Regions from separate parts of the Homo sapiens genome. Here region 1 is linked to region 2. The links come from fine-mapping of genetic effects on gene expression. Tissue or cell type: lung. Region 2 holds a variant in brackets; the other region holds the start of a gene. All regions are shown on one strand. Distances are from middle to middle.

Evidence for each region. PIP is the estimated chance that this variant, and not a neighbour inherited with it, causes the effect.
Region 1: it holds the start of VPS41, and the variant in region 2 is fine-mapped to the expression of VPS41 in lung (TOPMed, PIP 0.94).

What each region holds. Positions count from the first base shown.
Region 1 is chr7:38,906,124-38,911,123 of GRCh38, reverse strand. It overlaps VPS41 (VPS41 subunit of HOPS complex), which reads left to right and starts at 1,933. Exons shown (of 29, transcript NM_014396.4): 1 at 1,933-1,970. The coding sequence starts at 1,950. RefSeq lists an enhancer at 1,826-1,925.
Region 2 is chr7:38,732,623-38,737,886 of GRCh38, reverse strand. The region is part of intron 25 of VPS41 (VPS41 subunit of HOPS complex); the gene reads left to right. Among named protein-coding and RNA genes, the nearest start is that of AMPH, 100 kb to the right of the region's middle. The variant C/T (reference allele first, on the strand shown) is at 2,164.

The sequences.
Region 1 (5,000 bases), 170 kb before region 2:
CTTTGCTTGCTTGGGCTGCTTGACTTCTCACCAAAATAAAATGGAACCATAAAACAAAAATGACCTTGTGGTTAAGACAGTGGTAATAATCCCTTATTTTCCTTCTTCATCCCAATCTCATCCATTCAGCATAGAAGAGGAGATTGCCCAGTTGGAGAGGCTGTAGTCCTAGAGGTTTATGGGTGGCTGTCACTCATAACAGAAAAGAGAAAATTGGAGTTTGTGAGGAAAGTCAGAAAAGTGGAAGAGCTCATTTTATTTCTCTTTCCCGTGGATACTCGACTGAGGGCTTCCACAGTCTCTTTGGTCTGTATTAAAGTTTTTCTGGGATCTGGAGTTCATCATGAGCAATGTTTGGCCCTGGGCTGCTTTGCAAGAGATTTTAGAAACTCTTGGGTTAGGTTTATACTTGCCCTAGGTTTATACTTAGGGCATTGGGTGCTTGCTTATGGATTTCTTTTTTCTTTTTTCTTTTTTTTCAGATAGGGTCTCACTCTGTTGCCCAGGCTGGAGTGCAGTGGCACCATCAATGCTCACTGCAGCCTTAACCCCCACCTCAGCCTCCTGAGTAGCTGGAACTACAGGCGCACACCATTATGCCCGGCTAATTTTTGGTATTTTTTGTAGAGACAGGGTTTTGCCATGTTGTCCAGGATGGTCTCAAACTCTTGAGCTCATGAAATCTGACTGCCTTGGCCTCCCAAAGTGCTGGGATTACAGGTGAAAGCCACTGCACCTGGCTGCTTATAGACATTTAAATGCCTCAGGGTGGTCTATCCTGTCGGCTGAGTGATTAGCCCACTGGAAGAGGAACCCCAGCAAGGCTTGGAGGAAGAAGATGGAGGTAAGGCTGTTTAGGCCCTGGGGAGAAGACAGGTGTCTCAGAGATGATGTCACCTTGGCTTCTGGGCCATTGAGGAATCATGGGTTGAGCAAGCTACAGACAGAGTACTGAGTCCATGACTTCCTACTGGGTCAGAGTCAATGAGGCACAGGGAGTCAAAAAAGGTACTGAGGCAATCACCACATGCTGCCATTTGCAATGCCCTCTGCTGGTCACCAGCTACTCCAGTGAATGGAAATTGTAAAATGTCTGTCTTTGGACAAGGTGCTGCAGATTCCTGAGGGTTAAGAAACAGAATTCATAATGTTCAGAAACATGGAGAAGGAATCAGTCATTCTGAAGGCTGGAAGTAATACAGTGGTTGTGCAGATTTTGACCAAGGACAACTTCATATTGTGTCTTCACTTGAACATTTACCTATTGAATATCCTCAACAAAAGTTTAACAATTAATTTATTAAACAACAGAGATTTTTTTTAAATCAATGTTCATATGACAGGAGAAGACAAAGTAGCAAGCAAAAATAATGATATTATTTGTTGGCGTATAAATTTTCTCTGACTCTCCACTGCAAAGACTGCTTTATATTCACTGAATATACTTAAAAAAGAGAGAGAAAAAAGGACAAGAACACTTTTAGAGTAAGCAGCATTTGGCAATCACAGAGACTTTGGCATCAGGCAGGGCTGAATTCTATTACTAGTTCTGCCTCTTACTAGCTGCATGACCTCTGAGCTACGGTATTCTCCCCTATAAATGGGGATGATAGTAGGAATTGCTGTGAGGATTAAATGAGATAATTTATGCAAAGCTATAAACCCAGGGCATGACATAGTAAGTGCTTAATAAACACTAGAATAACTAGAGAAACAAGAACAACAATAAAATAAGCTATAGTATTAGCAATGGTTATGTTCACATCCTTCAAAGCAGAATTCCATTGAGTTTGGAGAATTGGCAGCAGAAATGAACCCTAGCAGGTCCGTCCCCTAGAAGAGATTTCCAGGCTCAGATGAAGCTAAAACTACATTTCCCAGAAGGCCCTGGGCCAAGTGTGTGGTTTCCTCTTATTTCCGGGTCTGTCAGGTGACTCTCCCGTGGCGCCATGGCGGAAGCAGAGGAGCAGGTAAAGGGTGCAGGTGGTAGTTGAGGGCACAGGGATATAGAGACTAGGGTGGGCTGTTTGGGGAGGGTGGAGTGGAGTGGGTGGAGGTGCGGAGCTGCTGGAATAGCGCAAGGCAGGTCCGCGGCAGGGCGGGGTGGGATGGCGAAAGTTGGTTTCGGGGAGCAGAGAGGATGCCAGCCCCGGGAGGGCACCTAGGGAAAGCGCTCTGACACACCCCCGCGTTCGGGCTGCCTTTCCTCGGGCCCCATCCCTGTGGCCTTTGCCCAGGGAAATTTTGGCATGAAGGCAGGCCCGGCTACCTCAGGGACTGACTGCCTGTGGGAGGAGGAAGAGAGGCCGGGTGACTGAAATTTAAGTTGCTTTCCACTTGAAGTAGGACAATAAGAACTAGGAGAGAGTAGACGATGAGTTTTGTTTTGTATCTATTGGAGTTAGGTACAGAGCTGGAGCACTGTTGCGGTGCAGCAGGGATTAAATGCATCCGTTCTGGAGCAAAAATGCCTGGGGTCCAAGTGCTGGTTCCTTTTCTTACCCAATGTGCTACTTTGAGCTACTTATTTAACTTTCCAGTGTGAGATGGGGGTAATAATAAGGCCGTCCTCAGAGGGTGGTTTAAGATGGAGAGAGGAGTTTATACACAAAGTTAGAGTACTTAGAACTGTTGGGCTTAGTAAAAATTAAATGGGATTATTTGTTGCTGGTAGTATCCAGTCAACAACTGGCAACGTGGCACTGAAGTTTAGGGTAGAAATTGGTGATGGGAATATGAATTATTTTCATATAGCAGTAGTGGTAATCACACATTTTATGAAATGACGAAGTAAAATAAAAAAGACAAAAAAGAGAAGCAGACCAAAAAAGAGGCTAGAACTTGGGGGAGATAACTTAAGTTTCCATTTCCAGTGTTATTTCAGTTGGATACTGTTTTTCTTCACAAGTTAACAGGGCTGTCAGTTGCAGTCATTGTCTCTAAACAGTGACTTGATGATGGGCTGTTTAGTATCATAAGAGTCATTTACCTAGTTCAATAATTTTTACTATTTTCAACATACTTCATTTGTTTTTACTTCATAGTGAAAATTTGTTCTGTATATATTTTATATATGCCAATAATTGAGACGTTTGACTAGGTAGAAATTTGGTTTGGCTGGTCCTTGTGATAACAAGATAACAAAGTCTCTTATCTAACACTAGAGACTCCTATTTCCATTCTAGCAGTTCAAAGGAAAACACTCATTAAGAACATATCATTTCATGACTGCCATTGCTCCTTTGAATAAGGGTGAGATTGTTTTTCACATTGTGCATCTTTATTTCATGTTGAAATGTTTGTTTTATGGTTTGATTTGAAAGCAAAAAACTGAGTTTCATATGTTCTTAGATATAGTGGAATAGAAATGGAGAGAGTTGCTCCTAGAAAAACCATTGTTTTTTCTTCCATTGAAAAAAACCTATGAAATATTTACCACTGTTTAGTGCAGAAGAAGAATTTAACAAAGTTGTCTGATATAAAAATGACACATACAAAATTAGGGATATAATAATGTTTCACATTTGTACATTATTTTCTAGTTTTAAAAACCCTTCCATATTGCATTTGGTCTTCCCAAAAGAATTCTATGAGGTAAATGTTTACTCTCATACATGGGTGAAACACCTCTGATATTCTAGACTTTCCAGGGGCTTCTAATCTTATTCAGAGGAAAAGCCACAGCCATTACGGTAGCCTGGTTGTCCCACAGGACCTTGACCCAGCTGCCCTTAGCCACCTTTTCTTGACCTCATTTTTCCCACTACTCTCCTTCCCTTCTGTGACTCTGCATCAGCTGTACTGGCTCTCTTAGTCTTCAAAAAGCCAGGCAGGTTCCTATCTCAGGGCCTCTTTGCTCATGCTGTTCCTTTTTGAGGAACCCTGATATTTACAGGCTTCCTCATTTCCTTCATGTCTTTGTCCAAGTGTTCTTTTTCATTGCGACCTTCCCTGACCATGCTTTGAAACCTTCCTGCATTATTTTTCCCTATAATGTGCATCACCGTTTGACATACTGTATTATAAAATTTGTTTTTTTTTTTTTCCCTGTATATTTCTGTGTACCTCTTACCACAGAGCTTGGAACATCCTGACAAGGATTTGTTCACTGCTGTATGTCCAATACCTAGAATATTGCTTGTTACTTAATAAATTTGTGTTAAATGATTGACTTTTACTGATAAACAAATTGAAATTCAGGCAACTTGAGTAACGTGCTCAGGCTTATATCTATAATATAATAAATCTCCAGTCCTCTGTCTCCATAGCTCATGACTTTTCACTAGAATACCCTACCTTTTTAAAATATATGTAAGAACCTAAATCTAAATAGTTTTTTTACTTTATGAAGTAGAATTAGCCCTTTCCATTTTAATGATTTTCCCTCAAGCCACCATTCCACTTTGATGCTTTAACAGCCAATATGTAGTTGGAGTGGGCATTCTCCTCTCCAGTGGTGTCAGTATCTTAAAAAGACTAGTCGTGGACCAGGCACAATGGCCCATACCTGTAATCCCAGCACTTTGGGAGGCCAAGGTGGGGCGATTGTTTGAGCCCAGGAGTTCGAGACGAGCCTGGGCAACATAGCAAAACCCTATCTCTACAAAAATTACAAAAATTAGCCAGGCATGGTGGTGTGTAGTCCCAGCTACTCGGGAGGCTGAGGTGGGAGGATTGCTTGAGTCAAGAGGGTCGGGGCAGCAGTGAGCCATGATCGTGCCACTGCACTTCAGTCTGGGCAACAGAGCAAGACCCTGTTTAAAAAAAAAACGAAAAACAAACAAAAAAAAACCCAGCAGTCTGTTGTAAATGGCTGAAAGACACATTCACAAATTGTTCAGTTCTTTTTTTTAAAAGAAAGTAAGTAATTGTACCTAATCTTATCCTTTATAGATTAAAAATGGTTAGGCTTTTCTCTGATTTGTTTTTGCATTTCACAGTAGGAAGCCATTGAAATCTGATGACGGTAGTAGGGCTTTATTATACCATTTTTTTAAAGC
Region 2 (5,264 bases):
CAACACCTGCCTAGTTAGGTTTCTCTACATTTCTCTCTGGAGCAGGATGTTCAGCTTTGGGCACTGGTTTGGGTCACAGGATTACAAAACTTTCAAAGATCACTACAGAAACTTAGCCTTTACAAGATGGACACAACACTCAGGAGTTTCCACTGTGATGGAAACTCCTCTGGACTTGTGTTATTGTGGTGATCGACCCCCATATTTGTATCCTTTTACACTTGGCAGAATCATGCCACGTGGTTCTCCCAGCAGGCCCTCGCCCCTGCTTTGCAGATGAGAAAGTTGAAGCTAGAAGATGTTGCATGATTTGCCCATGTCATGCAGTAGAGCCAGGATTCCAAGCCTGTGCACTTGGTGCTGCTCTGCCTCCTACAATTTGGCAGTTTTAAGTTTTCTTTTCATGGGTAATGCTTGCCATTACTCTTGCTTTTGATTTATGTTTTATTTTGTCTGTATCTATGACCAAGACTAGGGTTATGAAGTTTTGTTTTTATTTTTTATTTTTATTTTTTTGAGACGGAGTCTTGCTCTGTCGCCAGGCTGGAGTGCAGTGGCGTGATCTCAGCTCACTGCAAACTCCACCTCTCTAGTTCAAACAATTCTCCTGCATCAGCCTCCTGAGTAGCTGGGATTACAGACACGTGCCACCATACCCAGCTAATTTTTGTATTTTTAGTAGAGACAGTTTATCCATGTTGGCCAGGATAGTCTTCATCTCCTGACCTCATGATCCGCCTGCCTCGGCCTCCCAAAGTGCTGGCATGGCAGGTGTGAGCCACCGCGCCTGGCCTGTTTTTATTTTAGTTTTTTAAAGATAGATAATTCTCTCCCCAGCTACCAATCTAAGGGAGGCATTGCCCAACTTCCTTTTCCACCAACTTTCAAAAGTGGTGCGAATGTGGAATCTCTGCATATTGAAAATAAGGTCAACTCACCTGATGAGGGAGGGAAAATCCACCCTGTACTGTTCTTTTTCTTGAGATAGAAGCTTTGTAGATGAGATTTGCCACTCCCTATAATTAGGTTTAACTATTTGTGAATGCTTTTGTTTTTAATCCATGTATAAGACAAATATGTGCCAAAACTTTTTGGTGCTCATGCTTTCAGTTTTACAATTATGATTCTCATCCTCCTTTCTATTCTAGCAGTGTCTGTGAAGTGCCTTGAGGTACTTCATTTATGTTATCTCTGGATAAAAAGGGACTATCTACATAGTGCTGTTGTGTGGTCTTCCACATCATATCCTGTGTATCTCTCACTGCTGGGCCCATTTGGTCTCTGGAGATGCATTCATTGTACTGGCAGTTTATGCCAGAGTCACATACAGAATTGGCATGGAAGACAAATAGGCAACTGTTGTCTTTTAAAGAGCGGTGGACATGGTATTTGCAGACGTGGGCTCCTGTTCTGGCTTTGCCATTAACAAGCCTATTGAGACTTTGGTAAGGCACTTCAGCTTTCTGGAGCTTGGCTTCCCAGTTAGATTAAGCCAGTGTTTGTGAAGTCTGGCTGCACACCAGTATCATCTGGATTCTTGTATACGTTACATAGTTTCAGGCACCCAGCCCAGATCTGCTGAATGAGACTCTCTTGGGAAGGACTAGGGAGCATGTCCTTAAACCACCTTGATATTTCTTACACACCTAGTCTGGCACTAGTCTATGTATTGAAATTTGAGAACCTTGAGATTAGATGATCTCTAAAATATCTTTTGTTTCTAAAGTTCTTAACAGAGGCGTTTTATAAATATCTCTTTACATATTGAATACAGCTGCATATTTAATGTTAACTTAATATTTTAATGTAAGCCTTAATATTTATTTTGGGATCTAATAAAGCAGCTTAGATTTTTAGGTATAATTGGGGTTTATTTTTCACGGTTTTTTCTTTTGCCTCAAAAATGACATTTATTTAAAGAAAAAAAATGACAAATTGTCCATCCCTTGACTCCCTTCCCTCCCCTGCCCTGTTCCTCCCAACTGCCCCTTGGATTGAACCCTGGCCGGGGCTAGGTAGCAGGACAGCCCTTCTCAGATGAAGTCAGCAACACTGATGGGTGTCTTCTTAACAGAGGGGCTGTCAGAGGCCTTAATGTCTCATGGAATAGTTGTTTTCAAAGTGCCATATACTTGATGACTTATAAACACATTTATTCAGATA[C/T]ATGAGTACCTCCTGTGTCAGACAGTATGTTCTGTGCTAACAGGGCCTCCATTTGGTCTCATAGACCTGGGGATGAGCGAGACACAGCCCTTTGTTCATGCTGCTCATGATCTAAATTGATGTTTCTGGGAGAAGTAAAATGCCTTAACACTTCCATTTTGTTAAACTACGCACACCATACACACAGACACACACACATACACATATACACATGTACACACACAGAGACACACACATGTACACACACATACCTCATCCAAACTGATAAACTGATTTCAGACATCTCCATGCCTTCCAAAGTTATTTTCCCAAATTTGCATTTGCTGCAGTCCCCATAGTCCTTTATTTCCCATATCTCTATTTTGCAATCCAAATGGGATAAGAGGAAATAATGGCTTCTTTCTTACTAACCTTTTTTTGGGCCTACGTGGGTTTCTTTTTGACTCTCAGTATATAAGCTCCTAATTTTCTTCTAAGAGAGAGTTTTTGAATTTATATGTTCATGAAATAAACTTTTAAGACCAAATGAGATTTGTTGTTTTCCTTTTGAAATTATTTCAGTTTTGCCTTATCACAGCTTTTAGGTGACATAGGTGGCCTGTGACAACCAGCTGTAGCTTTTAAAATTAATTTGGTACATCCATACTTTGTGCTATTAGAAATTTAAATACAATTGTGTTTATAAGATTGTTTCTGAACTCCAACATAAGACCTTAGGATCTCTTTCCCTTCGTATTTCTCTGCAGTTCATCATTTTTATAAGAATCCCAGCCGAAAGCAAAGCTTTTTCAAGAAGAATTCAAGTCCCATAGCATTGTGACCTAAAGGAAGGATTAGAAATGAGGGGAAAAGTTTCTCAGTCTACCCTGTGTCATATTGGGGGCTTTTAAAACCAGGTAGCTGTCTGTCATTTGCAGTTCTAATGATAAGCATTGCAGTATGAACAAGGCAATGTCAGCAAAATGTTTAGTGTTCGAAGAATCTTTTAAAATAAAAATTTCAGAAACTTGGCAACTTTTGATGGCATTTTTCGCATGGCCGCTGTTTCTAATGAACCATAATAACTTTGCTGATATACAGTTCTTTTATTGCTTTATAAAATCTCTGTGGGTCTGGTGTTTTGCTTTTGGTTGGGATTATTATCAATGATGATGAACTGCAGAGAAATAAGGAGAAAGGGGGAAGATAAGGCAAATCTAAGTTCTCATGTTGATTTTCAACAGTCGTGTTGTAAATTCATTCTTATTTAAATTTACAGTAGCACAAAATATAATATGTAACAGGTTGTTTATAGAAGCCATAGCTGGTTGACTTCAAAATGACGAAAAGGGAAGAGTAAAGGTCACGTTGATAAAATATGTAATTTAGAAAAACTTAGAACTATGGAAGGAAACAAAGTAATATCAAGAAAACAAGAATCCTGGAGTAGGATGTAAGAAGAAATTGACCCCTAGATTTGAATAATCTTGGAAAAATATAGGAAAGTCCTGTAAGGAAAATAAATCTCTGAAAGATAATATTGTACTTTCTAAGCTATGCCTACAAGTATTTTTTGAGATGAAAATTAATACCATTATGAAGTTGAGGAAAGAAAAGACTGGTTTATCCTCAGTGAAATTCTTTTTGTTTTGTTTTGAGACAGGGCCTTACTTTGTTGCCCAGGCTGGAGCATGGCAGTGGTGCAGTCACAGCTCACTGTAGCCTTGACCTCCCGGGCTCAAGTGATCCTTTCACTTCAACCTCTGGAGTAGTTGGAACTACAGGCATGCGCCACTATGCCTGGCTAATTTTTTTTATTTTAATTCTTTGTTGAGACAGGGTCTCACTATGTTGCCCAGGCTGGGCTTGAACTCCTGGGCTCAAGAGATCCTCCTATCACAGCCTCTCAAAGTGCTGGGATTATAAGTGTGAGCTACCACAACCATCCGATTGTCAGTGATACTCTAATAAGAGACATAGGTTACAAAGCAAAGGTTAATAATGGTGCTGTTTAATTTACCAAGTAGAGATATTTCATAGAGATGTTTCAAACTAGTTTTAAGTTCTGAAAGTGATATCAGAGGCTGTCCAACACAGAGAATAAGAAACCAGGGTAAAACAGGAGGAAACAGGTGAGAAAGTTTTTAGTGGGTTAAAAATGATTGATCTTTGAAAGGCCAGTTAGACATACTTTGGAAAACAAAAACTACTTTTGGTGTGAAGGAGGACATAATCTTCAAAACTGCATGCTTATAAGCTTCTGTAGTCTATAAACCTTCAGGAAACATCACAAAATGTATTTGCAAATTCCATAAAGTTTAAGAAAAAGGCACGGGGAAACAACCAGCATAACCGTAAAAAACAAAGTCCTTGCAGACTAAGTTTTCAACACCTGAAATAAACAAAGAATACGAGTTTATATCAATATCTTCGAAAACTCAGAAGAACTGTACAATTTTCTAGGAAAATAATAAGTTGTAAAAGTTTACTCAAGCAAATAGAATAGACCTATAATCATTAACTAAATTACATTGGTAGTCAAAATGTATAGCTACAATAAAGGCACTTATTCCATAGACAGTTTTAGAGACAAGTTTTATCCTTTTAAAAAATAGCTGGCTGGATACGGTGGTTCATGCCTGTAATCTCGTCACTTTGGGAGGCTGAGGTGAACGGATGGCTTGAGCTCAGCAGTTTGAGATAAGCCTGAGCAACATGGTGAAAACCTGTCTGTACTAAAAATACATAAATTAGCTGGGCGTGATGGCTCATGCCTGTGGTCCCAGCTACATGGGAGGCTGAGGCAGGAGGATCACTTAAGTGCAGGAGGTCAAGGCTGCAGTGAGTTCTGATCATGCTACTGTACTTCAGCCTGGGTGGCAGAGCAAGACCTTGTCAAAAAAAATTAATTAAAAATAATAAAACTAAATAAAAAGCAGCTTCTGTGTTACATTTACTTTTCCAGATAATTGAATGGAAAAGTTCCTCAGTTCCTTATGGAATGCTAGTGTAACCCTAATACCAGCATTACGTGAGGGCAGTATGAGAAAATTATAGCCCTATCTTTTTTTTAAAAACACAAATGCAAAAATAATACATAAATCAATAGCAAATTGAACTTG